Linked DNA regions of Homo sapiens. The protein of the gene in region 1 purifies or fractionates together with the protein of each later gene. This does not show direct contact. Each region holds a gene or a part of one and is shown in the gene's direction. Other genes may lie near its edges. The genes, in order: CRB2 and EPB41L5.

Region 1 (3,819 bases):
TAGGCTCTCCTAAAACCGTTCCCAGTTCTGGGTGCAGATGTGTGCAGCTTACTGGGACCTGGCTTGCAGACCCCTGGCCCTCTGTCCATACTGTGCATGCAGAGACCCACGTTGCTTTTGGGGTCTGGGGTGGGCCTGAGAGGGTGGGGAGGAGATTGTCCTTGTAACCTCTGCCCACCCTGCCCAGCCAGTTTCTTCTTTCTACAGGGACGGTGCCTTCAGAGCCCCCCAGTGCCTGTGCCTCAGACCCGTGCGCTCCAGGGACCGAGTGCCAGGCTACCGAGAGTGGTGGCTATACCTGTGGGCCCATGGAGCCCCGGGGCTGTGCCACCCAGCCATGCCACCACGGCGCTCTGTGTGTGCCCCAGGGTCCAGATCCCACCGGCTTCCGCTGCTACTGCGTGCCGGGTTTCCAGGGCCCACGCTGCGAGCTGGACATCGATGAGTGTGCATCCCGGCCGTGCCACCATGGGGCCACCTGCCGCAACCTGGCCGATCGCTACGAGTGCCATTGCCCCCTTGGCTATGCAGGTAACAGCCTGGGCCGCCCTGGGAGGAGGTCTGTAATGCAGATCGCATCAGCTGCTCAGAGTGTAAGCATCATGGCTTCAGCTTTGCCTTTCGTGTAGGGACGCCCCCAGGCATCCGGGCAGCTCTAGGGTATATCCACTTGGTCTGACTACAGAACTGATGCCTGGCAGCTCTGGGTGAGAGTATGTATGTGCGGGTGCTGGCGTGGTGTGTGGCGCATCTCAGGCACTCGGTAAATGTGATTTCAGTCCAGCCTAGAGTTCAGTTTGGCTGCGGGGGTGGAATACCCCTCATTCATCTCTGGCAGTGTGAACCTGCCTGGCGTGACTTTAGTGAGGATGCCCAGATAGTCTTTCTAGCACTTCAGGCCTGTGCCAAGCTGTCATGTAGACACTGTCTACACGACAGTCACCATCAGCTCATTTGAACACTCCTGATGTGGTCTGGAGTGCAATGTGGACCCCTGGCCTCTGGGTCTCCCCCAGAGTTCTAGCATAGACATACAAGGTCTCGTTCAAACTGTAGTGTTGACATACCCCAGGGATCGCTGCTGTCTGGAGTGGGATAATATATACGTAAGTGCTCAGAAAAGTGACTGGCACTAAGGGTACCTTCTCCAGAGTGTGGCCCGTCCCAGGCCCACCCATGGTCTGAGCCGAGAACATCCTGGAGCGGCTTCCCAGAGAGGCCTGAAGTCGGGAAGGAGGGCGCAGCTGGGGACAGAAGGGGCGCAGTCTGGGAGCGAAGCTGAGTCCAGGGCAGAGTCTGAGTCTGCAGTGTAGATGCTCTGGATCCTACTTCAATCCTGAATTCAGACAACTGTACTCTGAGGGCAGAGGGCAGTTTGAAGTCACTTCAGAGCAAGAGGTACAGATTGGGGGGCTGGGTTCCAGGGCAGGGGGCCTACAGCGAAGAGATGGCAGCTGATGAAGAGAGATTTGGGAAGCTGGTTCCATGCATCTTTCTCATCGTTCCAGTGTCTCAGCGTCTGGGTGTATTAGTGTACATGCCAGTGCAGGTCACATTCGTCCATGTGTCTCCTAGTTCCAAGTTCTGTTTTGCATCTGTAAAGATCTGCCAGTACCTGGGGGTGTCTGCAGTCTGAGTGCATGTGTGGGCAGTGGGTTGTTCGGGCAGTGGGTTGTGTGGGCAGTGGGTTGTGCGGGCAGTGGGTTGTGCGGGCAGTGGGTTGTGCATCCGGATGTGTAGCACTCACACACTTCGGGTGACTCTTCCTGGGTAAGCTGTGGATGTGAGTGGGGGCAGCATCTGCCGTGACTCATTCTCTCCTCTTTCCATTCCAAGCCGGGTGGGGGAGTTTGGGATTTCCAGACAAGGCCTGGCTCCCCCTGGCACAGAGGGTGGGAGTGGGGATGGGGAGGGAGGAGGGAAGGGTCATGGGAAGGTGGGGCCATGTTTTGTGCTCAATGAACTGAGAAGGGGGAGGGTTCCAGCTGGAGTCAGCTGGGCCTCTGGCCCCCGCTTGACCAAACCCACTTAGGGGGCAGGGCCTGCTGGAGTCTACAGTGACACGTGAGTCCAGGATGATCTCAGGCAGCGTATCTGAAACCCTGGGACTCCCCATCTCCCTTCCTCTTCACCATCACCCTGGGAGAGCCACTCAGCTGTCGTGATTCGCCCAGGACTGCGAGGGTTCTGGGGACTTGGTACTTTCAGTTCTAAAACCAGGACAGTGCAGGGACACTGGGAGGAGTGATTACCCTACTCAAGCATCTCCTGCCTCTCTGGGATCTGAAAGCCACCAGAGTGGACCTTCTAAAAAGTAGGTAGGGCCAGGTGTGGTGGCTCACGCCTGTAATCCCAGCACTTCGGGAGGCTGAGGTGGGTGGATCACTTGAGGCCAGGAGTTGGAGACCAACCTGGCCAACATGGTGAAACGCCTTTTCTACAAAAAAATACAAAAATTAGCCGGGTGAGGTGGCATGCACCTGTAATCCCAGCTACTCTGCAATCTGAGGCACAAGAATCACTTGAACCCAGTGGGCAGAGATTGCAGTGGGCTAAGATTGCAGCACTGCACTCCAGCCTGGGCGACAGAGTGAGACTCTGTCTCAAAAAAATAAAAAACAAAAACAAACCCAAAACAACTAACTAAAATGTAGGTGGGACCAAGTCACTTACCTGTCTGAAACTTTCAGGATGGACCCAGAGGTTACCTGGTCCCCAAGGCACTGACACCTCCCACCCGACTCACCTCCGCCACCCTCTCCCTTGCTTCCAACCCTCCAATAACCCCGCCTAGGGCATCATGGCCCTGCCCCTAGTGGAACTTGCCTCTTGCTGCAGTCTCTTTGGAATCCAACTGCTGCCCACAGTCCCCTATCTGAATCCTTCAAAAGCCTCTTCTTCTAGGAAGCCTTCCCTGAACAGAGCAGACCCCGGCTATTGCTTTCCCAAGACCCAACCCCTTTCCTTGTTGAACTTGGCAACATCACCTAGCTCATTTAGGTAATTACTGGCTGAATCACCCCCCACCATGTCCTGGCCTAGACTGCTGTGAGCCCCATGAAGGCAGGGCTGTCTGTCTCGTTTCTCTCCCTGCGGTTGCTGGCATGACCCGTCCCCCACCCCCCAACCACCACCACCACCATCCGGCTCTGAATGAATGAATCCACGAGTCTCTAACTCTGGAGCAGGCCTGGCGCGACCTCTTCCGCCCTGCTCTGGGTGTCCATCCTGCACCCTGTGTGTCCCCTGCCCTGTCCAGGCGTGACCTGCGAGATGGAGGTGGACGAGTGCGCCTCAGCGCCCTGCCTGCACGGGGGCTCGTGCCTGGACGGCGTGGGCTCCTTCCGCTGTGTGTGCGCGCCAGGCTACGGGGGCACCCGTTGCCAGCTGGACCTCGACGAGTGCCAGAGCCAGCCGTGCGCACATGGGGGCACGTGCCACGACCTGGTCAACGGGTGAGCGAGCGGCGGGGCAGGCGGCAGGGGCGCCGGGTGCCCGAGGGCGGGGAGGCCAGGCGCGGGGCAGAAGGGGCAGGCGCGCGCTCAGCTCCGCCGGTGCGCCCTCCCCAGGTTCCGGTGCGACTGCGCGGGCACCGGCTACGAGGGCACGCACTGCGAGCGGGAGGTGCTGGAGTGCGCATCGGCGCCCTGCGAGCACAACGCGTCCTGCCTCGAGGGCCTCGGGAGCTTCCGCTGCCTCTGTTGGCCAGGTGTGTGCGTGCAGGTGCGCGGCCTGGCGGGGGGAGGGGTAGGTGTGCGCCTGTGCGGCCTGGGGCGGTGGGGCAGGTGTGTGGCTGCACGCGAGTGCCCGCTGGGTCCT
Region 2 (3,819 bases), on another chromosome or scaffold:
AAACAAATTTTCCAGAAAAAAACAACCCCATCAAAAAGTGGGTGAAGGATATGAACAGACACTTCTCAAAAGCAGACATTTATATGGCCAGCAAACACATGAAAAAAAGCGCATCATCACTGGTTATTAGAGAAATGCAAATCAAAACCACAATGAGATACCATCTCACACCAGTTAGAATGGCCATTATTAAAAAGTCAGGAAACAACAGGTGCTGGAGAGGATGTGGAGAAATAGGAATGCTTTTTTTGGTGGGGGTGTAAATTGGTTCAACCATTGTGGAAGACAGTGTGGTGATTTCCTCAAAGATCTAGAACCAGAAATATCATTTGACCCAGCAATCCCATTACTGCGTATATACCCAAAGGATTATAAGTCATTCTACTATAAAGACACATGCACACATATGTTTATTGCAGCACTGTTCACAATAGCAAAGACTTGGAACCAACCCAAATGCCCATCAATGATAGACTGGATAAGGAAAATGTAGCACATATACACCATGGAATACTATGCAGCCATAAAATAGGATGAGTTCATGTCCTTTGCAGGGACATAGATGAAGCTGGAAACCATCATTCTTAGCAAACTAACACAGGAACAGAAAACCAAACACTGCATGTTCTTCCTCATAAGTGGGAGTTGAACAATGGTAACACATGGACACAGGGAGGGGAACATCACATACTGGCGCCTGTTGGGAGGGTGAGGGACTAGGGGAGGGATACCATTAGGAGAAATATCTAATGTAGATGATGTGTTGATGGGTGCAGCAAACCACCATGGCATGTGTATACTTACGTAACAAACCTGCACGTTCTGCACATGTATCCCAGAACTTAAAGTATTTAAAAAAAAAAAAAGTCATCTGTCAGGTTTTAGGTCGTTTTTGTTCACGTGTGTCATAAGCTTGCTATGGTGGATATTGGCTAGATACTCTTCCTTCTCACCTCTTTTCTCATTCACTTGGGTTTTTCTCTTGTGAAGTATTTCCTTGCGGTTATCAGTGTAGGCACAATGAAAAGTAACTTTTAGTAATTCATTCAAATTTTAAAGTTCTGTCATCTGCTTAACTAAATTTTTGTTTTTGTTTTTCAGCATTGGTTGGATGGTACAAAAAGCATCAAAAAGCAAGTAAAAAGTAAGTGCAGACAAAATTATTTGTGGGGGGGAAAGGAAATAGAATATATTAGAAATTCTGATTTCTAATAGGATGTAAGAAATCATGTTTCAGATGAGTTTTTTAGCATTTCCATTTTCTAGAAATTATTTTATTCTGATACACTGAGCTACTCCCCAAGTCATGTAGGCTTGATACTAATCTAGATTAAACTGCATTGGGGCTTAACTTTCCAGGAGAAAACCTTGCAGCTTGCAAATGGGATTGACTTTCCCCGAAATGCTTAATGGTTATTTTTTAATTAGTTGTGTTGGAATTTTCCTGTTTGGCATCTGCCCTAATATTGAAAGTATTTTGAGACTTTGTGATATTTTAAAATTAAGAAAAATGAAACAATTCACATAAAATGTTAGTGTCATTCAGAGAGAGAATACCATTGTTTATTCATTATCCAACTTGACTTTTTATCAGACTTATTAGGGCACCTCAACTCTTGTCTCAAAATAATGAGACCACTGAGATTATAGAAGTTAGTGAACTTGCTGAATTGTATTTGTGTGGGAAGATTCACCATGAGCAGTTAATAACATAGGCATTCTTCAGTGTAGCAGGTTTTCAGGGCTGTTAGGTTGCACAGTCAAGACTTTTATTTGATGCATTTGGCTCTGAACTGTTAGAATTAATCTATAGCTGTCTATTCTTGGGATGAGAGTTAATAGTAATATGATGGCTTGGTACATTAAAAAACAATCTAATTGAAGCCTATGATCTAACCTGCAATAATGCCATAAAAACCTCATCTTTTGTCTCACTTCAGTAGATTTTTGACCAGTTTTCTGGCTGAAAAGTATTATTTAAGTAGTTTATTTTATTAAAACCTTTTTTTTTTTTAAATGACAGTTGGTTCACCCTATTGTCTGCATCTTCGAGTTAAGTTTTATTCCTCAGAACCAAATAACCTTCGTGAGGAGCTAACCCGGTAAGAACACCATCTAGAATTGTGCCAGGGTTATTTTGATAGTTTTGAAAGACTGTCTTTATATTGTTTCCAATTTATAGCCAGCTAATAAAATGGATTCCTGTCCCCTGGTAACAAGACCTCAAATAATAGAATTTTATTCTGGGACGTGTTTTTTAAGTGTATGATTCTTTTCCTTTAGCATTTTCAAAATAAAGAGTTGGTTTCTTAGCATCCTCCAAAGGTGACTAGTGAGTTCTTTTTTTTAAGTATCACTCTCAACTCAGGAATGTTAACAGGATTCACATGTTTCAATACATTGCAATATTATATTTATTGATGTTGAAAATAATCTATCTTTGGCCACAGGGAGTTTATTCAAATTGGCGCCCAACTTTCTTTACTCATTGAAATGCCATTGATTAATGAAAAACATTAGATTCTGATTGGTTTGAATAGTTTTGAATAAACCTTATGTTGTATATACTTATTTTAATGTTATCCTGCCTCCTTTGTATTTATTCATGGTCTCTATTATAAATTCATTGCTCCATATACACATACTATTTATTAAATGAAAAAGTTGAGCTTTTGAGTTCCTTTAGAAGGGTTTCCTTTAGAACACCTTGACAATGAGATAGTAGCTATCATCTGTAGTTATATCCATGTCTGTATCCCTTCACATAACAAGTAGATGTCTCGCTCTGTCATCTAGGCTGGAGTGCAATGGCATGTTCTCAGTTCACCGCAACCTCTGTTCCCCCAGGTTCAAGCAGTTCTCATGCCTCAGCCTCCCAAATAGCTGGGATTACAGGCACGTGCTCACACCCCCAGCCAATTTGCGTATTTTAATAGAGACGGGGTTTCGCCATGTTGGCCAGGCTGGTCTTGAACTCCTGGCCTCAAGTGATCCACCCGCCTCGCCCTCCCAAAGTGCTAGGATTATAGGTGTGAGCCACTGCACCAGGCCTTTAATTAAGAATACTTCTAAGATCTAGTGTTAGATCAGTAGGGTGATTATAGTTTACAATTACGTATTTTACATTTCAGAATAGCTAGAAGAAAATAATTCAAATATTTCTAGCATAAAGAAGAGAAAAATATTTAAGGTGATGGATACCCCACGTATACTGACTTGATCCTTACAAATTATATGAATGTATTCAATTATTTCATGTATCCCCAAACTATGCACATCTTTTATACATTAATACAAGTAATTTTTAATGAAATAATACTTCTCAAGTTAGAAGTGTAAGATTTTTTTTCACAGTCGATTGTGCTGTTGGGTTAAATTTGTGCCTTTCATTTTTCTTAGGTATTTATTTGTTCTTCAGTTAAAACAAGATATTCTCAGTGGAAAGTGAGTATTAGTTATTTAAGGATAAATGCACATTTTCGTGAGTGGTTGAAAAATTATTTTGAAAATAAGTTTATAGTTGTAAAAAAGAAATGGTCAACATAAAACATGTATTATTTTCATTTGTCTTAAAATGAAGGTTATGAAATCAACTTGTCTAACAAACTTGTGTTTTGGTCTCAGATTAGACTGTCCCTTTGATACAGCAGTGCAATTGGCAGCTTATAATCTGCAAGGTAAGCAATTCTTATGTTGACTGTTAAGACTCAAGTATAATCTTTTTTGTGTGTGTTTTTAGTTAAAGAAGATTCTAATTATGTGCAAGAAAAGAAACAACACTGTTTTTGTATAAACTTGTATCAGGGTCCAACTCTGACT

Evidence for each region.
Region 2: the proteins of CRB2 (region 1) and EPB41L5 purify together in Homo sapiens (pull-down; one study listed by IntAct). This does not show direct contact.

Annotation. Positions count from the first base shown.
Region 1 is NC_000009.12:123,362,658-123,366,476, forward strand, and holds part of CRB2 (protein crumbs homolog 2 precursor), read left to right. Parts: intron 1-207; coding exon 208-531; intron 532-3,259; coding exon 3,260-3,455; intron 3,456-3,569; coding exon 3,570-3,709; intron 3,710-3,819. UniProt on the Homo sapiens protein: Apical polarity protein that plays a central role during the epithelial-to-mesenchymal transition (EMT) at gastrulation, when newly specified mesodermal cells move inside the embryo.
Region 2 is NC_000002.12:120,072,077-120,075,895, forward strand, and holds part of EPB41L5 (band 4.1-like protein 5), read left to right. Parts: intron 1-1,101; coding exon 1,102-1,144; intron 1,145-2,023; coding exon 2,024-2,102; intron 2,103-3,399; coding exon 3,400-3,444; intron 3,445-3,624; coding exon 3,625-3,677; intron 3,678-3,819. UniProt on the Homo sapiens protein: Plays a role in the formation and organization of tight junctions during the establishment of polarity in epithelial cells.